Linked DNA regions of Homo sapiens. The protein of the gene in region 1 purifies or fractionates together with the protein of each later gene. This does not show direct contact. Each region holds a gene or a part of one and is shown in the gene's direction. Other genes may lie near its edges. The genes, in order: ARHGEF35, KLHL22, KLHL13, TYMS, MON1B and OBSL1.

Region 1 (3,998 bases):
AGATTCAACCAAAAATAACAGAAATCTCTGTCCCCCAGGTAAAGGATTCCTACTTTGTGTGTGTCTGTGTGTGCACACAGGCACACTCGAGAGACTTTTGGCATTCTTTGAAGTCACTGGAGGGGCACAGAGATAAACCCACTCAGCCTTGGCCTCCAAGACTAACAGAACAAAACGTTTCCCTGAAAGAATAAAAAAAAAATACAGGCATAAGAAAACACACAAACATGGGCTTAGAGATTTAAATACACACACACACACACACACACACACACACACACACAGGCCCTAGAAGGAACATACACCCTGAGATACGCACTCATTCTAAAATAAACTCGGGAATACAGAAGGACACGGGCATGTCCTTTCAGAGAGGCACACTTCTAGGCCCTAAGTAGGAGAAGGAAGAGGGGAGAGGAAGAGGCAGGGAGAGGGACAGGGAGGGGGGAGGAGGGAGGGAGAGAGAGAGAGAAACGAAGAAGGGGGCGGAGGAGGAGATGGAGGAGACACTCTTTATTCTATAGGAGGAGACATCACGGAAGAGAAATCAACACTGAGGCCTTGGCCGGGCGCGGTGGCTCACGCCTGTAATCCCAGCACTTTGGGAGGCCGAGGCGGGTGCATCACCTGAGGTCAGGAGTTTCCAGACCAGCCTGGCCAACATGGCGAAACCCGGCCTCTACTAAAAAATACAAAAATTAGCCGGGCATGGTGGCGCGGACCTGTAATCCCAGCTACTCGGGAGGCTGAGGCAGGAGAATCTCTTGAACCCGGAGACGGAGGTTGCAGTGAGCCGAGATCGCGCCATTGCACTCCAGCCTGGGCAACAGGGCGAGACTCCGTCTCAGAAAAAACAACAACAACAACAACAACGAACAAACCAAAAACCAATGAGGCCTGAAGATAAAGACACATGTACAACCACGGATGTCAGACTTCCAGAGGCACGGCCAAGGCAAAAGACAAACACATACAGACTGCAGCAGGCAGACAGGCCGGTTCCAGAGTCAGGCTCCGGTGAAGCTCCGAAGAAACAAACACGCAGGGAGATTTCGGAGGCGTCCGAGGACACCGTGGGGCCCGGCTGGCTCCCTCTGTCTCTGTGCGCGCCCCTTCCCCGGGTCACCCCGCCTGCGCCCGACCTGCGCCCGCGCACCGCGCCCTCGGGGCTCCCTGGGACAGCCCGCGGCCTGGCCCGTGCGCCCGGGCTCCCCTCTCCGCCGGCCCGGCACTTCCCAGCTCTGACGCGGGAGCTTCTTTCACACCAATGGGGCTCGCGCGCGGAGGGGCCCTGCCCCTCCTCCGGGAAGGTGTGTCCCTGTTTCCTCACCTGAAACTTCCTAGGAGAACCCGATCCCTCCCTCCCGTCGGGCGGCCAGGGGCGGGCCGCGGGTGGGGCGGCCGGGCCTGCGCTGGGGACGGCTCTGGGGACTGCGGCCGGCGCCGGGACCTGGAGGGGACGCTGGGGCCGAAGCAGCATGTGACACCGACCAGGTGGGTGCCCTCCTCCCGTCTCGGCCCTGGGCTCCCGGCGGCTGTGGAGCCCGGCGGAGGTGGGGCAGGGACAGGAAGGAAGAGGAAGCCAGGCCTTTCCCAGGGATCAGCCCCCGCTGGGTCCGGGGCGCAGGCTCCGGAAATGGGGGGGCTGGGCCCGCAGGCAGGGCTCGGGGTGTGTGGCTGAGGACCCTGGTGGGGAAGAGGAGAGGAACTAGAGGAAATGTTGTTGCCTACAAGTTTGCTTCCGGTCGGGTCCCGCCTAGGAAATGGGCACCCTGCCCCCAGACGTTCCCCGGGCCAATAATCAGGGCTCTTTCTTCAAAGTAGGCGCCCTGGGGAAAGCTAAGCCATATCAGAAGGAATAACTGAGATTCCCTTTCTAGGCTGTTCCTTACCTGGAGAGGTTTTATCGGCTCCTTTTCCTTAACCAGGCCGGGGCCTTTCCTTATGTATCTCCATAGGTATTTGCATACTGTGTGAGTCTATGTGTAGCTTCTCTCCGTGTTAACCAAAGCTCCGTAACCTGGAACAGTGAATCCTGCCCTGCCCCTCACCCCAGTTCCCTACATATGGGGAGCCTCCTAAAGCTTGATGTGAATCACAACGTTGCATTCTTAGCAAGGTGGAAAGAAGTTATTTAGAGTTGGGGGCTGAGGTAGGCGTTGGGGTGCTAGAATGCGGACGCAGAGCTCTAGAACCCCTGAGCATCTTTTGCAGTTGCCTTCCGGCAAGACTACCGGAGGAGAGCCAGTTGTGATACTACGTCATTTCCAGATCTCAGTCCCTTTCTTCCCTTCCTGGATCTTGGGTTCCAAAGACAGATTTGCCCTCCTGTCTACCTAGAAGTGAACTCTGGCCAGGACTCTTGTCTGGTTGAGAGAGAAGGGTGTGTCAAACAGATGAGAGAGGGTGGTTTTCCTTTCGAGCTTCCTCCCTAGCTTGCTCCCCTACTGCACTCCACTGTCTGGCCTTGCATCTTGGGCCTAATCCAGAGGTCCCAGCTCCAGCTAAAAAGCTCTTGATGTGGCCTCTGTCTCAGACGTCTTGTTTTATCCACATTTGGAGCATGAAGAAGTTCCTGGCATAGGCCTTAGCAAAATGGGTGTCATTTGTTAACCAATCTGTGGGCCTAAAAGTGAAGCCATGGCTAGTGAAGGAGTCCTGGGGAGCTGGGAAGATGGGATGAGGGCGTGTCAGTTCTGGGTGAGACTGATATGCAGGAGGAATGTATGTCATGGTCCTAGTGGGGAGGAGAGAGAAATCAGGAGGAGTGCAAAGGAATCCCTCTCATCAACAGAATATAGTGATTCTCAATAGAGAGAAGAGTGTTCATATATTAGAGGTCCTGAGAGTGTATCAGTGCCCTTAACGCGGTCTGTCTGAGGTTCCGTGGCCACGTTACACGTGGTGTCTGTGGGATAGACAGGAATACGTCATTTGTGGTGTCTGGAGAGGTCAGTCGCTATGTGGTATGGACAGGAATGGAGTCACTCGTAGGGTCTTGGGTTCAACGGGAGCAGCATTACTCAAGTGTCAGTGGTGTAGACAAACAGGTGACCAACAGCTCTAGTGTAGACAGGGGCTGGGTCACTCACAGTGTCTGTGGAGTAAGCAGGAGCCGATCACTTATAGTGCCTGCAAGGTAGACTGGAACAAAGTCACCCTCAAGGTCTATGTTAATACACAAACACGTCACTCACACTAATGTTATCTGTGTGGATGCCACCAGGACCACAGATGAGATTGTAGAGTGTAAGTCAGCATTGACACTAATAATGTTCTTATATAAACTATCTGGTCTATAAGGCAGTTGGTGTGACATTTTCAGACATTAGAGAATAGATAAATGTGTATTACAGCTTTCACTGGCATGGTGGGACTTTCCTGCAATGGATAGAACACACATTGTAGTAGTCAGTGGTCCAGAAAGCTACCCCTGTTTTGATATCTTTGTAGTATTGAGGGCAGTGATGTCAAACAGTGAATAAAGTTATATATCTATGTGGTGATCTTATTTTAACCTCAATATTATTTTAGTGATTTGTAAGTCAGAATATTTGAAATCAACCTTGCTAGAAAATCCAGGAAGCATGGTCCTCAAAAATATATATATGGCACTGAGTCTCAGTTCAAAGATTTGGCAGTTTGATTGGGGAGGGGTTGTATCCTTGAAATACAGTGTTGTTTCTAGTGACTAGAAATAGACAAGAGCTAAGGTGTTGGTGGGGGGGCTCTAGGGAAGATAGTGAGCTCTGTCACACATTATGTTAAAGGGATGACTTGAAGCTTTGCCTCTCAAGAAGTCACACGTGGGTGAGGTTATGTGGATGCAGAATGTCTGTGGTCTGAAGCAAGGCCGTATCCCCATAATCCCATGCCCTGGCTTTGCCTGTACACAGATAAACAGTGATTATTCACCCTCAGTGGAGAAGGAGATGAGGATGTTTGCACTCTAACGTAATGAGCATTGCAAAAAACTCTCTCCTGATGCCTTTACGTGA
Region 2 (3,500 bases), on another chromosome or scaffold:
GCTGCCCAGGCTTCTTCAGGGCTGTTTGTGCTCACATTCTGCCCAAAACTTGGTCTTCAGGACCCTGGCCCATGACAAACCAGAATTTTAGGAAAACCTAGTAGTTTGGGAAGAAGTGGCAAAGCAGAAGACTGGCAAAAAGGGAAAAAAGAAGGTCAAGTGAAGCTGGTCAGGGCCTAGCAAAGCACCATGGGGATACCTCATGTAGGGCACATACCTGCCTGACATTTGGTAGGTCTCATCCAGCTCTTAGCATGTCACCTTGCAAGCAATATTAGATGTCTTTTGAATTTTAAAAAAGTTATAGTTAGTGTTTATTGATAAGCTTTAAATACCTTGGCCGGGCGCCGTGGCTCACGCCTGTAATCCCAGCACTTTGGGAGGCCTAGGCGGGCAGATCACGAGGTCAGGAGATCGAGACCATCCTGGCTAACACGATGAAACCCCGTCTCTACTAAAAATACAAAAAATTAGCCGGGCGTGGTGGCGGGCGTCTGTTGTCCCAGCTACTTGGGAGGCTGAGGTGGGAGAATGGCGTGAACCCGGGAGGCGGAGCTTGCAGTGAGCCGAGATCGTGCCACTGCACTCCAGCCTGGGCAACAGAGTGAGACCCCATCTCAAAATAATAAATAAATAAATACATAAATACCAGCAGAATTATTCCATGTGTAATGGTTAATTTATTGATGATCCTGGATAAGCCAGGTATTCCCATTTTTAGAGAAACTGATTTATTGCATTGAACACATGGCTGGAGTTGGTAGCAAGGGGGTTCCCACAAGAGGGGACCCCACAGCATCCTGAAATGGAGCCGTTTTGGGATTCCAAAGAAAGAAGCATCAAACACCAGGGTGATCTGGCCAGAGCGTTTATTAGGGGAACTTATGTATAGAGTGATGTAGCATGTCCTCAAGACAGACAAGGGAAAAGAGAGGCTTTACCCAGGCTTGCCCACAGAGTGGGTTAGTGTATGGAGTTTCTATGAGGGTTTAAGGAATTTGTCTCAGGGCCAGAACCAGTTTTTCCTTCAGTGTTTTGGGTAACAACCTTGATGCCTTTATCAGTGCCTGGGAATGTTCAAGGGCCTGGTTTGGGTTCAAGCCTGCTGGGAGAACCTGCAGCTGTCTGGGTCACAGAGAGGTCAAGGTACTCGTCATTTTCAATCTGAACATGGAAAGAAAGGAGGTGGGCACTGGGGGGCCCCACTGAAACTCTAAAATCCTGCTTTCCTAAATAATTTATCAACACCTGGTTTGTTCTCCCAGGCAGTTTTCCCTAGGGCCCTTCCCTTTGTCTCCTATTCTCCCAAGATTTGGTTGTCTGTTCACAGGGTGGCCTTTAACAGCCTGCTGGTTGTGGCCTTGTTCCCACCTCCCTCCAGTGTCATTCTCTCTCTTGCCGTCCTTTCAAACCACTAGTGCTTCCCCATGGCTGGGAAGGGTTGATATGGCCACCTGGGAGCCCCTGCACTTACTGGAGTCAAGTGGGTCTTGACCCAGCTGGGAACCTCAAGAACCCTGAGTCAGGGATCACTTGAGCCCAGAAGCTTGAGACTTCGGTGAGCTATGATCTTGCCATGGCACTGCAGCCTGGGCAACAGAGCAAGACCCTGTCTCAAATTTTAAAAAGAAAAAAGAAAAATAATTCTAAATCAGGTTCCTGGGTGGGTATTGGTTAGGTGTCTGAGAGGCTCTGAGCACTTCTAGGGAACCAGGGTGGATGTTCTGGCGGGGGAAAAAGCCAGGTTTGTTTCTGGTCCCAGCGCTTTTGGAGAGGCAGGCTCTTCCAGAGAATCCTAGGGTAGGGATGGGGATGGTCTTAGGTCCTTTCCAAACCACAGATATATGACACAGTGACCATTTGTGCTGCTTCCTGCTTTTCTGGAGAGCCAGTACTTCTTTTTTTTTTTTTTTTTTTTTTTTTAGACGGAGTCTCGCTCTGTCACCCAGGTTGGAGTGCAATGGCGCGATCTCGGCTCACTGCAACCTCCGCCTCCTGGGTTCCAGCGATTCTCCTGCCTCAGCCTCCTGAGTAGCTGGGATTACAGGCGCGCGCCACCACGCCCAGCTAATTTTTGTATTTCTAGTAGAGACGGTGTTTCACCATGTTGGTCAGGCTGGTCTCAAACTCCTGACCTCGTGATACACCCACCTTGTCCTCCCAAAGTGCTGGGATTATAGGCATGAGCCACCGCACCCGGCCGAGCCAGTACTTTTGATCTAAGAGGGAACTGACATATATCAAGGGTCCACTCCTATGTGCTCTCTCATTTTCATCATGTTCCTCTTCACTTTAATGATCCCCGTTTTATAGATGAGGAGACTGAGGCTTAGAGAGGTTAAAAACATTCTGTACGGGAGGCTGAGGCAGGAGAATCATTTCAACCCGGGAGGGGGAGGTGTTAGTGAGCCGAGATTCTGCCACTGCACTCCATTCTGGGCAACAAGAGCGAAACTTTGTCTCAAAGAAAAGCAAAACAAAACCAAAAAAAAACATGCTGTATATCCTGTCACCCAGTATGTTTCCAAACCAGGACTTAAACCTAGTCTGCAGTAAGCCCCAGTCTCCAGTGTGTCAGAAAAGGTCGGGGACAATTAAGGAGGACTTCCCTTCTGCTTTGCCTGGCCCACAACAGCCCGTATTTCTGCCATCATTCTCTCTCCCACCCCCAGATGCTGTTCACCAGCCCAGGCTTGAATGGGTGTCATTCTCTCTGCAGATCCCAGAAATTATCCATTTCTGCTGTGATTTCCTCATGTCCTGGGTGGACGAAGAGAACATTCTCGATGTCTACCGGCTGGCAGAGCTGTTTGACTTGAGCCGCCTGACTGAGCAACTGGACACCTATATCCTCAAAAACTTTGTGGCCTTCTCTCGGACTGACAAGTACCGCCAGCTTCCATTGGAGAAGGTCTACTCCCTCCTCAGCAGCAATCGCCTGGAGGTCTCCTGCGAGACCGAGGTATATGAGGGGGCCCTTCTCTACCATTATAGCCTGGAGCAGGTGCAGGCTGACCAGATCTCGCTGCACGAGCCCCCAAAGCTCCTTGAGACAGTGCGGTTTCCGCTGATGGAAGCTGAGGTCCTGCAGCGGCTGCATGACAAGCTGGACCCCAGCCCTTTGAGGGACACAGTGGCCAGCGCCCTCATGTACCACCGGAACGAGAGCCTACAGCCCAGCCTGCAGAGCCCGCAAACGGAGCTGCGGTCGGACTTCCAGTGCGTTGTGGGCTTCGGGGGCATTCACTCCACGCCGTCCACTGTCCTCAGCGACCAGGCCAAGTATCTAAACCCCTTACTGGGAGAGTGGAAGCACTTCACTGCCTCCCTGGCCCCCCGCATGTCCAACCAGGGCATCGCGGTGCTCAACAACTTCGTATACTTGATTGGAGGGGACAACAATGTCCAAGGATTTCGAGCAGAGTCCCGATGCTGGAGGTAGGACAGGGTGCTAGCTGGTCCCTTTGTCTTCAGGTGATGAGAGGGTGTGGAAGTCATGG
Region 3 (3,500 bases), on another chromosome or scaffold:
CCCTAAAGCATACATCTCTGTACCCACAAAAATTAAAAATAAAAGATAAAAATTGAAAAACATGATGTTTTGAAATATGTGTATGTTGTAGATTCAACCTGTTATAATCTTAAAAGTGATTGTCATTCTTCCAACTTATATCAATAGAACAACTGTCTATTTGTCGTTAGTTGAGACCATCAGGGTGTAGTGAAAAAGCTAATCAACAAGGATTCTTCTCACCAGAGCTCTGTCACTCCTCTGAATTGTGGCTGCTAGCCTGTTAATTCTCCACTAAACCTTTAGGCATTTGGAGACAATTAAGTCTCATGTTGGGGTTTCCTGGGCTTTTTTTTGTTTTTTTTCAAACAAAGATAATTAAGTCTCAAACTTGAAACTTGAAAGATATTTGGCCAGGCAGCAGCAATGTACTGAGTATAGGCTTCTCAAAGAGATGAAGTAATACAATTAGTAGAAAGAACTATCGTGTACTTAATACAGTTGCTCTCTACTTTTCTTTCTCAACCTCCCCCAAAACAAAACAAAACCAAGATGCTTCAGTCAAGCACTATAAAAGGACTATTAAATTATCGCGAAAAGGAATGTTAAGACAGTCTAATACTCTCATTCTGCAGATGGGAAAGTAGAAGTGCACATTGTAATTATTTTTCAAAATAAGGTAAAAGCTGATAATTGTGTAAATAAGCAAAAGTATATACTTTTTCCTTAATCGTTTTTAACCTAAATTAGTCTTAATTTTGTGTTATTCCTACAGTGAAAGAAAACATGCATTGTCACATATCAGGAAAGTTGTGCAGTTATTTTTTCTTCTCCCGAATATTCTGTTGGCTTTATGTTCCACATATGTTGCACCACATTAATATTCAAACAATTTTAGCACACGAAGATTTGTAACCTCATTTTACCTTGATTAGTGACTCAACTCATGTTCTTGTTGTAGGGCTTTGACCAGCTTCGACTTGAAGGATTGCTTTGTGATGTGACCCTGATGCCAGGTGACACAGATGATGCTTTCCCTGTGCATAGAGTCATGATGGCATCTGCTAGTGATTACTTCAAGGCTATGTTCACAGGTAGTTTGCCTTTTAAAACTCTGAAACCACATTAAAACAATATGAAAAATCCGTGTTTAAATCTTTTTTATTTCTAACATGAAATTTGGTTCTTTTGGAAACAGCTTCAAAAGAAGTACACAACAGTATGTATGGTTTTCGGTGGTGCTGTTTTAACATGGAAAATTGATGCACTTTTTTCATACTGTCCATCTTTATCTCACAGCTTTTCTTTTTCAAGCTTATATCTAGTGGGCCATCAGAGACTCTGTGTCCTCCTAGTACAATCTCTACTCTATGTCAAAAAATAGGAAGTGAGAACATTTTGGAAGCACTTGCATCATATATGACCTCCATTAGTATAGAGATTATCTTTTTTAAGTACTTTCTTTTAACAGTAAAATGTGCAGCAGACTGACTCTAATATGACTGCTTATATAAGATAAGACTTTCCTTTGATTTTATTGCATCTAATTAGCAGCAGAAGTGAGTTTGACCATAATTATCCACCTTCATTTAATTGAATGTCTTTTTATTTAAGGTGGAATGAAAGAACAAGATTTAATGTGCATTAAACTTCATGGTGTGAGCAAAGTCGGTCTAAGGAAAATTATTGATTTCATTTATACTGCAAAGCTTTCTCTTAATATGGACAACCTTCAAGACACGCTGGAAGCTGCCAGTTTCCTACAGATTCTGCCAGTTTTGGACTTCTGTAAAGTGTTTCTCATATCTGGGGTAAGATATTTTGAAATCTGATTTTTCCTGTGGTAGACTCTGATGTAGCCTGTTTAGGACTCATGAAATCTGCTGTGCAGGAATGTGAAACTTGCCATTAGACAGATGTGTCTTGTTGTATGTGGTCTGTAAGCAAGGTGAGATTGAAACAGGTGCATTTTTATGAAATAGAATCATTTAATAAAAGCCTCTGTGTTGGCCGGGCATCGTGGCTCACGCCTGTAATCCCAGCACTTTGGGAGGCCGAGGCGGGCAGATCGTCTAAGGTTGGGAGTTCAAGACCAGCCTGACCAACATGGAGAAAGCCCGTCTCTACTAAAAATACAAAAATTAGCTGTGCATGGTGGTGCATGCCTGTAATTCCAGCTACTTGGGAGGCTGAGGCAGGAGAATCGCTTGAACCTGGGAGGTGGAGGTTGTGGCGAACTGAGATCACGCCATTGCACTCCAGCCTGGGCAACAAGAGTGAGACTCCATCTCAGGAAGAAAAAAAAAGCCTCTGTGTAATCAAATGACATGAGATACTAATAATGTTTGATGAAGATATATACTTTAACTGTTTGATAATGGTATGTACCATAATCTGGTTTTATTCACCTTAATGACTATACAAGCAGGCTTCTTAAATGTAATTGAATGGAAAAGTAATCTGAGCTTCTAGAACTCTTTAAAATTTCTTCTTTTAATAAGGGAGCTAGATCTTAAGAAGAACTAATACCTATGGGCAAACCTGTAAGAATGTAAGTCTTGATTCCATAGAAACATATCACCTACTGAATAGTGTTTAGCCATTTTTTAATAGATAAGATAGGACACATACAACTACCAATCGATGGAGTACTTAATGATAGTCACCCAGTTCCTGAAGAGAGTGTTTTATTTTAGTTGAGACCTTTAAATTTTACTTCTGGGGAGATAAATGGCTACATTGGACAGAAATATTGCCAAGACTTCCAGAGGTCTTGGAGCTTGTTTTTCTGATTAAGAATTCTGGCAATATTAATTTTTGGTATATTTTCTAACTCATTATGTTGATGGATATGTTTTCTATAATTTTTTAACTCATATGAATCTTAATATAGGTAAATAATTGCTGTTAGATCTTTACAACTTACATTTTTTGAACATGGAACCTTCTTTAAAACACTAAGTTTCAAGAGAGCCATGTCCTTAATTATTTTATTATTAAGGTACTTAACTATCTTAAAAGTCAGCCAATAACTAATTTAACTGGCCTATTGAAAGTGTGTTTTTTGTATGTTTGATTTTAGAAAACTCAGACTGCTGTCTCACAATTACTTATAAAATTTGAACTAATTGCTACTTTTAAGGGTTTTTATGGCAGCATGGTGCTATATTGTTGACTTGTATTGTCTTCTTTATTGCGAAAGTAGCCCAAGTGAAGTTGGTTAATTCCCATGCTATTGCTTGCCTCCATTACTGAATTTAGGTGCTAAATTTTATTTAAATTTGATCATGCAAGGCCCATTCCCTCAAGAGCTATTAGGATCTCACCTCTGGTTGTGTCACTGGCATGATATAACAACTTCATTTCAAGGAAAAATGAATCATATTGAATGTGATTTTCAAAATGCCTCAAGTCCAGAATTTAATTTAGTAGTAACACTTAAAGCTTGTACTTATAGACTCTTAACATTGCTTTACACTGATCTTAGCAACACATGGTCATCCTGAGCCAAATTAAGGAAA
Region 4 (3,500 bases), on another chromosome or scaffold:
GGAATGGTCTTCCATTTCTTTGTATCCTCTTTTATTTCATTGAGCAGTGGTTTGTAGTTCTCCTTGAAGAGGTCCTTCACATCCCTTTTAAGGTGGATTCCTAGGTATTTTATTCTCTTTGAAGCAATTGTGAGTGGAAGTTCACTCATGATTTGGCTCTCTGTTTGTCTGTTATTGGTGTATAAGAATGCTTGTGATTTTTGCAGATTGATTTTATATCCTGAGACTTTGCTGAAGTTGCTTATCAGCTTAAGGAGATTTTGGGCTGAGACAATGGGGTTTTCTAGATATACAATCATGTCGTCTGCAAACAGGGACAATTTGACTTCCTCTTTTCCTAATTGAATACCCTTTATTTCCTTCTCCTGCCTAATTGCCCTGGCCAGAACTTCCAACACTATGTTGAATAGGAGTGGTGAGAGAGGGCATCCCTGTCTTGTGCCAGTTTTCAAAGGGAATGCTTCCAGTTTTTGCCCATTCAGTATGATATTGGCTGTGGGTTTGTCATAGATAGCTCTTATTATTTTGAAATATGTCCCATCAATACCTAATTTATTGAGAGTTTTTAGCATGATGTGTTGTTGAATTTTGTCAAAGGCCTTTTCTGCATCTATTGAGATAATCATGTGGTTTTTGTCTTTGGATCTGTTTATATGCTGGATTACATTTATTGATTTGTGTATATTGAACCAGCCTTGCATCCCAGGGATGAAGCCCACATGATCATGGTGGATAAGCTTTTTGATGTGCTGCTGGATTCGGTTTGCCAGTATTTTATTGAGGAATTTTGCATCAATGTTCATCAAGGATATTGGTCTAAAATTCTCTTTTTTGGTTGTGTCTCTGCCCAGCTTTGGTATCAGGATGATGCTGGCTTCATAAAATGAGTTAGGGAGGATTCCCTCTTTTTCTATTGATTGGAATAGTTTCAGAAGGAATGGTACCAGTTCCTCTTTGTACCTCTGGTAGAATTCGGCTGTGAATCCATCTGGTCCTGGACTCTTTTTGGTTGGTAAGCTATTGATTATTGCCACAATTTCAGCTCCTGTTATTGGTCTATTCAGAGATTCAACTTCTTCCTGGTTTAGTCTTGGGAGAGTGTATGTGTCAAGGAATTTATCCATTTCTTCTAGATTTTCTAGTTTATTTGCGTAGAGGTGTTTGTAGTAATCTCTGATGGTAGTTTGTATTTCTGTGGGATTGGTGGTGATATCCCCTTTATCATTTTTTATTGCGTCTATTTGATTCTTCTCTTTTTCTTTATTAGTCTTGCTAGCGGTCTATAAATTTTGTTGATCCTTTCAAAAAACCAGCTCCTGGATTCATTAATTTTTTGAAGGGTTTTTTGTGTCTCTATTTCCTTCAGTTCTGCTCTGATTTTAGTTATTTCTTGCCTTCTGCTAGCTTTTGAATGTGTTTGCTCTTGCTTTTCTAGTTCTTTTAATTGTGATGTTAGGGTGTCAATTTTGGATCTTTCCTGCTTTCTCTTGTGGGCATTTAGTGCTATAAATTTCCCTCTACACACTGCTTTGAATGTGTCCCAGAGATTCTGGTATGTTGTGTCTCTGTTCTCGTTGGTTTCAAAGAACATCTTTATTTCTGCCTTCATTTCGTTATGTACCCAGTAGTCATTCCGGAGCAGGTTGTTCAGTTTCCATGTAGTTGAGCAGTTTTGAGTGAGTTTCTTAGTTCTGAGTTCTAGTTTGATTGCACTGTGGTCTGAGAGATAGTTTGTTATAATTTCTGTTCTTTTACATTTGCTGAGGAGAGCTTTACTTCCAACTATGTGGTCAATTTTGGAATAGGTGTGGTGCGGTGCTGAAAAAAATGTATATTCTGTTGATTTGGGGTGGAGAGTTCTGTAGATGTCTATTAGGTCCGCTTAGTGCAGAGCTGAGTTCAATTCCTGGGTATCCTTGTTAACTTTCTGTCTCGTTGATCTGTCTAATGTTGACAGTGGGGTGTTAAAGTCTCCCATTATTAATGTGTGGGAGTCTAAGTCTCTTTGTAGGTCAGATGATTGGCACTTACTGGGCGCTTGGCACTTTCCATACTGTGTCATCGGCAGATAGCTGCATGGTTGGTGTTCGTGCTGGGGAATGGGAAGTTCATCGGTGGGACAAGGGACAAAATGCCCCCATTGCTTTGTTGTGGCTTTAATCTCCCTTTCGAGGCTGAGCCACAGCGTGCTGTAGGTGGCGCTGCTGTGAAGCGCAGTGCCAGGGTCACACTCCACTCCCAGCTCTGCAGAGGTGGAGAAAGAATGAAACATCTCACTCCTGGACTTCCACTTTCCTGTCACTGTTGGTGTCACCTCTTACTGGATGTCACAGAGCCCAGCCCCTCCCACCTGTCCCTAGGAAAAGCAGATGCCACCTTGGAATGTGGGGTTTGTGTGTGCAATTTACTAGCTGGGCAGAGACCAGCAACCTGGAGAGCAGGTGTCTCATCTAAGGGGACAGTCACATTTCACCTCCAGCCACCTGGAGGAATTTGGGCCTGGTGATGTCAGAATTCTTCAATAAAAGCCTAAAATCTATATTTTATGTGCGGTCATGAGATCTGTTAAATGTTAGCAACTTCAGGAAGTTTAAAAATGCTGTGTGGACCTAGAATAGGCAAGTTCTTAAAGGCAGAAAGTGGAATGCTAGTTTCCAGGGACTGGGGAACAGGGAGGAATGGGGAGTTCATGTTTAATGGGCACAGAGGTTTTGTTAGGGATGACGAAAAAGTTCGGGAGATGGTGATGGAGATGGTGATGGTGATGGAGATGGTGATGGTGATGGAGATGGTGATGGTGATGGAGATGGAGATGGTGATGGAGATGGAGATGGTGATGGTGATGGAGATGGTGATGGTGATGGAGATGGAGATGGTGATGGAGATGGTGATGGTGATGGAGATGGAGATGGTGATGGTGATGGAGATGGTGATGGTGATGGAGATGGAGATGGAGATGGTGATGGTGATGGTGATGGAGATGGTGATGGTGATGGTGATGGTGATGGAGATGGTGATGGTGATGGTGATGGTGATGGAGATGGTGATGGTGATGGTGATGGAGATGGTGATGGTGATGGAGATGGAGATGGTGATGGTGATGGTGATGGAGATGGTGATGGTGATGGGATGGTGATGGAGATGGTGATGGTGATGGTGATGGAGATGGTGATGGTGATGGAGATGGTGATGGAGATGGTGATGGTGATGGAGATGGTGATGGTGATGGTGATGGTGATGGAGATGGTGATGGTGATGGTGATGGTGATGGTGATGGAGATGGTGATGGTGATGGTGATGGTGATGATGGAGATGGTGATGGTGATGGTGATGGTGATGGTGATGGAGATGGTGATGGTGATGGTGATGGTGATGGAGATGGTGATGGTGATGGTGATGGAGATGGTGATGGTGATGGAGATGGTGATGGTGATGGTGATGGTGATGGTGATGGTGATGGAGATGGGTGATGGTGATGGTTGCCTAACATCAGGAACGTG
Region 5 (3,500 bases), on another chromosome or scaffold:
GGGGTCAGGCCTCTCCATGTGGTATGAGGCATAAATTGAGTTCCTCTTTATATTATTCCCTGGCTGTAGATGATGAAAACATAGTTGTAGGAGCTTAGAGCAGGACCTTGTACACAATAGGTTACTGACAGAATATTAAACATTGTTACTGTTTTCCCCAGTTCCCAATGAGCAAACAGGTCTAGAGAGTACCCACACACACAACCAGCATCATCCAGTTGAAGTCACTAGGTCCAGCTGAAATTGCACAATATCAGCTTACCTACCTTAGCCCAGTATCTAGGCAGCACCTGGTAGGAGGTGCTGCCAGGTACATGTTCCAGGTTGCAGGAGGCAGACATGCAGCTGCACTGGGGTAGGCAGGATTGTCCATAGCCAGCTCTGGCCCATCTGACTCTGTCTCCTCCGAAACCCCCAGGTGACCTCCAAATTCGAGCTCTATACCTGCCTCAGCCCTCTGGTGACCAAGGCAGGTGCAATCTTGGTAGTGACCAAACTCCTGCGCTGGGTGAAGAAAGAGGAGGACCGGCTCTTCATTCGTTACCCACCCAAGTACTCCACACCACCAGCCACCTCTACGGACCAAGCTGCCCATAATGGCTTGTTCACTGGACTCTGATAGTTGGAGCTCCCAGACCAGGCAGTGCTGGGAGCAACCACCTTTGTTTTTTACCTTCTGTCTACCCTGGAAATGTGTGTGGGGGTGTGTCTGTGGCCAGTCATTGTCTCCCTAAGCAATGGGGCAAGGTCTGAGGGCCCACCGATGAGAGAGATGGTGGCAGCCGCCAGGCGAGCAGGCTGCTTTCCCTGCCCAGTCATGCACCTCCCCCTCTGGGGAAATCCTTAGGCCTCCCTCTCCCTTCCCTCTGTCTCATCTCCTCCACTTGGATGATGCTCTAGCCTCTGTCAGGGACTGTCCCCTCCAAACTTGCTTCCGTGGTCTGCCTCCTAGTTGAATCTCAGCCCTGAGTGTCCAGATCTGGCCAAGGTGTCTAGGGTGGCCCACGGGGGTGCTGGAATTGGCACTTCAGGGCCAGGCTATGCTTGGGACTGGCCTGAGGGTATTTTAAAGAAAAAAACTACATAAAAGGCCTAAAAGTAAGACCCACAAGGATATTCCTTTGCCCTTCTTGTACTTTTTTCATCTTTACCCTGCCAGAAATGACCCGCCCTCAATGCTGGCTGCTGCTAACATTAATGAGAAGGTGGCCTTCAGTGTCCACCTGTGGAACCCAGGACACAGCACCTGACTGCACACAGTGGCTGAAATCCAGCATTTTTACATAGGAGATGCACTTAGCCTCTAAGCCTCGTTTTACTCATCTGTGAAACAGAGATAAGTAACCCTCTCTCATGAACTCTTTGATGAGGATTTGTAAACGAAAACAGACTCGAACTATTGTGTACCACCACATAGCACATGCACGTCTGTCCCAGACTTTGACAACCTGCACAAGACAAGCAGCCTAAAGCAGGAGAGACCTCCCTAGGGTTTTGTGTGTGTGCACACTACCCTCACTCCCCAACTGGCCATTACCCTAGTTCTGCCCTTGTTTGTGGAGTTACAGCCTCAAGGTTGTAGCATGTGTGCTGGCAATCAGGGCCGCAGTGTGTTCTGCGCCTGCCCAGAGCTGACTCCTGATTTAACCGCTGGCGTAACCGCGGGTTGCACGCATGCGTGCTGAAAAGCCTTTCACCCTCACGTGGTTTCTTTTTTAACCAGTCATCAAGCGAGGCTCGCGCGCAGGCCCCGCGTTGGAAAATGGCGGGGAAGCTGAAACCTCTGAATGTGGAGGCGCCAGAAGCTACTGAGGAGGCTGAAGGTAGTGAGGGCAAGTGGGCTGCACTCCTTTCTCTCCAACCAGGGCAGAAAGGAGGGAGGATTCGTCCCATTACAATAATGAAATAATGATATTCTAATTTTTTTAAATAAAATGTTAAGCCTTTTGTTATTGAAGAAAAACAATTTTTTAACCGTTCAGCACAGTGGAGATAAATTAACAGGCATATTCTTATCACCGAGATTAACTTTTGTCAACTGTAGTGTATACGTTGTTGAAAGTAAACAACATGTAGTTCAGTACGAAAGTCTTCAAACAAAAGTGGGGCGGTGGGGATGTTCTCATAACAATCACCGTGCTGCAGCCACCCCTTATTAACAGTAATTCCCAGTGTCGCCATTTCACACCTAACACATATGACACTTTGATGGACTCTTAAACCTCCTAATCGAACATGGCCTCCCCCACAGCCTCTTTTCTCCAGGGTATTGACTTGAATGACAGGCAAAGGAGGGTGGAGGGGTGTCGGCCTAGACACTATTGGAAATTGTATTCCATCCAAAAGAAAAAAAAATCTCAGGCCGGGCACGGAGGCTCACGCCTGTAATCCCAGCACTTTGGGAGGCCGAGGCGGGCGGATCACGAGGTTAGGAGTTCGAGGCCAGCCTGACCAACATGGTGAAACACCATCTCTACTAAAAAACTATATATACATATACATATGTGTGTATGTGTATTTATATGTATGTATGTATGTGTGTGTATATATATATATATGTATATGTGTATATATATATATATGTGTATATATATATATATATACACACACTAATCAGCCGGGCGCGGTGGTGTGGGCCTGTAATCGCAGCTACTCAGGAAGCTGAGGCAGGAGAATCACTTGAACCCGAGAGGCGGAGGTTGCAGTGAGCCGAGATCATGTCACTGCACTCCAGCCTGGGTGACAGAGTGAGACTCCGTCTCAAAAGAAAAAAAATTCTCCCTTGGCCGGGCTTGGTGGCTTATGCCTGTAATCCCAGCACTTTGGAAGGCCGAGGCGGGTGGGTCACCTGAGGTCAGGAGTTTGAGACCAGCCTGGCCAGCATGGCGAAACCTCGTCTCTACTAAAAATACAAAAATTGTCCGGGTGTGGTGGCGGGCGCCTGTAGTCCCAGCTACTGGGGAGGCTGAGGCAGGGGAATTGCTTGAACCCGGGAGGCAGAGGTTATCGTGAGCTGACATTGCGCCACTGCACTCCAGCGCGGAAGACAGAGTGAGCAAAAAAAAAAAAAAAAAAAGAAAAAACAAAAAGAAAAAAATCTCCCAAGGCAGTCATGCATTTGTATGCCACTAGCATTTTTTTGTTATAGAAATATTCAAAGTGTACCAACGTAGAGAAAATAGCTTTAAACAAAGCCCATGTGTACCTATCAGTATGCTTTAACTGTTGTCACCTTTCTGCCCCACTTTTATCTATCTCGAACACCCCTTTCTGCACACTCTTTAAACCACTGTATTAACAAACACATTAGACTGCATCCTGCCAGACCTACCCATACAGACATCAAAGTAATGATTATTGCTTATTGCCTGACCTAGGATGTGAGCTCCATGAGAACAGAGACTGTTTACCTCTCGCTCCCCTGCACCTAAAACAATGCCTGCTTGGTGTAAAGTAAGTGCTCAGTAATTTTTTAATGTGTGACCAATGAAATAACTTCA
Region 6 (3,500 bases), on another chromosome or scaffold:
GTGCTGAGCTGTGAACTGTCCCGGGCTGGCGCCCCCGTGGTCTGGAGCCACAATGGGAGGCCCGTGCAGGAGGGCGAGGGCCTAGAGCTCCATGCCGAGGGCCCCCGCCGAGTCCTCTGCATCCAGGCTGCAGGCCCAGCCCATGCAGGGCTCTACACCTGCCAGTCTGGAGCAGCCCCCGGAGCCCCAAGCCTCAGCTTCACCGTCCAGGTGGCTGGTGAGTACAGCCTGGGCATTAAGCCTGAGAGTGGCACCAAGCCTGAGAGTGGCACCCCAAACTCTGCGGGATTCCTGCTTTTCCAGCATGCCTTGCCCATCCCTGGCCCCACTTCTCTCAGTACCTTCCCCGTCATGCCTCCCCGTGCCCTCCTCAAAGCCCTGAGCCTCTCCCTCCCAGTGACCTCCAGCTCTGACTCCACAGAGCCCCCTGTGCGGGTGGTAGCTCCCGAGGCAGCCCAGACGAGGGTTCGGAGCACCCCAGGCGGGGACCTAGAGCTGGTGGTGCACCTCTCCGGGCCAGGGGGCCCTGTACGCTGGTACAAGGACGGGGAGCGACTGGCAAGCCAGGGGCGGGTGCAGCTGGAGCAGGCCGGGGCCAGGCAGGTGCTGCGGGTGCAGGGGGCACGGAGCGGGGACGCTGGGGAGTACCTGTGCGATGCGCCCCAGGACAGCCGCATCTTCCTTGTCAGCGTGGAAGGTAACAGTGTACCCCTCACACCCTGTGGGCTGTGGCACCCCAAGGACCATCTGCCACTTTCTAGGGCCCCCTTACTCCTCCACCCCCGCTTTGCTGCTTCTGGCTCCAACCAGTGCGTGCATGACCATCACTTGGATAGGGGCTCAGGGCTCCTCTTTCCAGAAACCCTCATGTTGAGAGCAGCATAAACCAGTGGTTAAAAGCAGGGGCTCTAGAGTCCACCCAGCCAGGTTCCAGCCTAGATTCTGTGCCCCAGTAGCTGTGTGACATTGGCCAAGTTGTTCAACCTGTCTGAGCCCCGGCTCTGAAAAGAGGGGATAGTGCTTTTCTTATAGGCCTGTTGTGACAAGTAAATGCTGTAAATAGGGTCCCTGGTAATTGATATTATTAGGGTGCCACCAAGGTGGGGTGCTAGGCTAGGATTATGAGGAACTGACTAAAAGGAGTGGCAGGGAGCTGGCATCTTGTCCTTTGGGCCATCGGTGTGGTCGATACATAGTAGGTCCTCACAGAAGGTCTGTTAAATGACTGGGGACGAGGGCCTGCATCCTGAGGAGGGGATGAAAAGGAGAGAGAAGAAAAGACTCAGCCCAGCTCACTGCCTTACCGTGCCCCTTAGAGCCACTGCTGGTGAAGCTGGTCTCGGAGCTGACACCACTCACTGTCCACGAGGGCGATGATGCCACGTTCCGGTGTGAAGTCTCCCCACCAGATGCCGATGTCACCTGGCTGCGCAATGGGGCCGTCGTCACTCCAGGGCCCCAGGTGGAGATGGCCCAGAATGGTTCAAGCCGCATCTTAACCTTGCGAGGCTGCCAACTGGGGGATGCAGGGACCGTGACTTTGCGGGCAGGGAGCACGGCCACAAGTGCCCGGCTCCATGTTCGAGGTTAGGTCCTGATGAGGATGAGATACTCTGTGTCCCGTGCCTGTACTCCCAACCAGGATTCCAGCAGCCTTGCCTCTCCACCTAGGGACAGACCAGTGGGATGGAGCAAGGGGCCAGCCTCCAACCCCACCAGACTCCATGGCCTCCTTCTTCCCCACCAGAGACAGAGCTGCTGTTCCTACGGCGGTTGCAGGATGTGCGGGCAGAGGAAGGCCAGGATGTGTGTCTCGAAGTGGAGACAGGCCGAGTGGGTGCAGCGGGGGCCGTGCGCTGGGTGCGAGGTGGGCAGCCCCTGCCCCACGACTCTCGCCTGTCCATGGCCCAGGATGGGCACATCCACCGCCTCTTCATCCATGGTGTCATACTGGCCGACCAGGGCACCTACGGCTGCGAGAGCCACCACGATCGCACCCTGGCCAGGCTCAGCGTGAGGCGTGAGTGCCCCGTCCTCTCTTAATGCATTACCCACCCTACACCACAGCCTTTTCTGGCTGTCCTGGAGTCCCTCAGGCCCCCACCAAAGTGCCCCTCATCGCTGAGAAAAGTCACCCATGGCCGTCCCAGCAGCAGCTTGCCCAAAGCAAAACTTTTCTTTTTCTAATATTTTTTATTTACCTTAGAAGTCCATGTGGATTTTGCATTCCATTGCATATTTCCAAGTCGGCTTTGCTATAAACACAAATATTCTCCAGAAAGACTTGCCATGGGCATCCTTCAGGCATGTATTCTAGGGATACACATACCCACTTAAGTAGCAGGGATGGCTGTCAAACAGCACCCCACACCTCCCACCCAAAGCTGGAGCCCTCTGTTTCCTATGTGACCTCATGCAAGTTAACCTCTTTGAGCCAAGTCTCCTTAAAAATGGGGCTGAGACCAGGTGCAGTGGCTCACGCCTATAATCCTAACACTTTGGGAGGCCAAGGCAGGAGGATCCCTTGAGGCCAGGAGTTCGAGGCCATCCTGGGCAACATAGCAAGAACCCATCTCCACAAAAAAAAATAAAAATTAGCCGGGCATGGTAGTTACTAGGGAGGCTGAGGCAGAAGGATTGCTTGAACCCAGGAGGTTGAGGCTATAGTGAGCTATGATCATGTCACGGCATTCCAGCCTGGGTGACAGCAAGACCCTGTCTCAAATTTTAAAAATGGGGTTGATCCCCGTCTCAAGTGTCTCTGGGAACATTAACTGAGATAACATGAAAATTCTTACACAGAGCTTGGTGAATGGTTGTCATTTGTGACACATCTCTTCTAACTTATTTCATTCAAGAAATCATCACAATAAACCTGTGTCCCAATGTTATTCACCTTGTACAGCTGGGGCAACTGGGGTCCAGAGAGGTCAGGCCATTTGCCAAAGATCACATAGCACACAAACTATGTGGTAGAGCGAGGTTCCATTCCTAGTGTGTCTGACTCCAAATTCCGTGCTCCTTCAAGTGTCACAGCACCCCTCACCCAGACTCCACGACCCCCTAACCACACTTCTCCCCCTTCCTGTGCCCTCATCTCCTAACCCTGATACAGCCCTCCCCCCGCCAAATCTGTCCACCGTGCTCCTTTCTTCCTGCACCCTGGTTCCGAACTTTTTTGGTCAGGACCTTAGGTTGGGTGTTCAGGGGTGTAGGCAGGGCCAAGGGATGAGGATTGACTGCAACCCCTGCCCAGAGCTGGAGGCCTCATCCTCCCTCTCTCCATCTCCCCCGGCCAGCGAGGCAGCTGAGGGTGCTGCGGCCTCTGGAGGACGTGACCATCAGTGAGGGGGGCAGTGCCACCTTCCAGCTGGAGCTGTCCCAGGAAGGTGTGACCGGGGAGTGGGCCCGGGGTGGAGTACAGCTGTATCCAGGACCCAAGTGTCACATCCACTCGGACGGCCACCGTCACCGACTGGTACTCAATGGCCTGGGCCTGG

The links.
Region 2: the proteins of ARHGEF35 (region 1) and KLHL22 purify together in Homo sapiens (co-immunoprecipitation; one large-scale study listed by IntAct). This does not show direct contact.
Region 3: the proteins of ARHGEF35 (region 1) and KLHL13 purify together in Homo sapiens (co-immunoprecipitation; one large-scale study listed by IntAct). This does not show direct contact.
Region 4: the proteins of ARHGEF35 (region 1) and TYMS purify together in Homo sapiens (affinity purification with mass spectrometry; one large-scale study listed by BioGRID and IntAct). This does not show direct contact.
Region 5: the proteins of ARHGEF35 (region 1) and MON1B purify together in Homo sapiens (co-immunoprecipitation; one large-scale study listed by IntAct). This does not show direct contact.
Region 6: the proteins of ARHGEF35 (region 1) and OBSL1 purify together in Homo sapiens (co-immunoprecipitation; 3 studies listed by BioGRID and IntAct, with this or other methods). This does not show direct contact.

What each region holds. Positions count from the first base shown.
Region 1 is NC_000007.14:144,193,034-144,197,031, reverse strand, and holds the start of ARHGEF35 (rho guanine nucleotide exchange factor 35), read left to right. Parts: upstream 1-1,198; 5' UTR 1,199-1,494; exon of another isoform or gene 1,495-1,711; intron 1,712-3,998.
Region 2 is NC_000022.11:20,464,796-20,468,295, reverse strand, and holds part of KLHL22 (kelch-like protein 22), read left to right. Parts: intron 1-2,719; coding exon 2,720-3,438; intron 3,439-3,500. UniProt on the Homo sapiens protein: Substrate-specific adapter of a BCR (BTB-CUL3-RBX1) E3 ubiquitin ligase complex required for chromosome alignment and localization of PLK1 at kinetochores.
Region 3 is NC_000023.11:117,917,811-117,921,310, reverse strand, and holds part of KLHL13 (kelch-like protein 13), read left to right. Parts: intron 1-940; coding exon 941-1,073; intron 1,074-1,593; coding exon 1,594-1,790; intron 1,791-3,500. UniProt on the Homo sapiens protein: Substrate-specific adapter of a BCR (BTB-CUL3-RBX1) E3 ubiquitin-protein ligase complex required for mitotic progression and cytokinesis.
Region 4 is NC_000018.10:664,153-667,652, forward strand, and holds part of TYMS (thymidylate synthase), read left to right. Parts: coding exon of another isoform or gene 1-1,124; exon of another isoform or gene 1,125-2,244; intron 2,245-2,684; exon of another isoform or gene 2,685-3,500. Other genes in the region: ENOSF1 (mitochondrial enolase superfamily member 1), read right to left, coding at 1-1,124. UniProt on the Homo sapiens protein: Catalyzes the reductive methylation of 2'-deoxyuridine 5'-monophosphate (dUMP) to thymidine 5'-monophosphate (dTMP), using the cosubstrate, 5,10- methylenetetrahydrofolate (CH2H4folate) as a 1-carbon donor and reductant and contributes to the de novo mitochondrial thymidylate biosynthesis pathway.
Region 5 is NC_000016.10:77,197,690-77,201,189, forward strand, and holds part of MON1B (vacuolar fusion protein MON1 homolog B), read left to right. Parts: intron 1-418; coding exon 419-619; 3' UTR 620-1,762; coding exon of another isoform or gene 1,763-1,823; 3' UTR 1,824-3,500. Other genes in the region: SYCE1L (synaptonemal complex central element protein 1-like), read left to right, coding at 1,763-1,823.
Region 6 is NC_000002.12:219,554,540-219,558,039, reverse strand, and holds part of OBSL1 (obscurin-like protein 1 isoform 1 precursor), read left to right. Parts: coding exon 1-217; intron 218-421; coding exon 422-697; intron 698-1,316; coding exon 1,317-1,586; intron 1,587-1,747; coding exon 1,748-2,020; coding exon of another isoform or gene 2,021-2,043; exon of another isoform or gene 2,044-2,891; intron 2,892-3,299; coding exon 3,300-3,500. UniProt on the Homo sapiens protein: Core component of the 3M complex, a complex required to regulate microtubule dynamics and genome integrity. It is unclear how the 3M complex regulates microtubules, it could act by controlling the level of a microtubule stabilizer.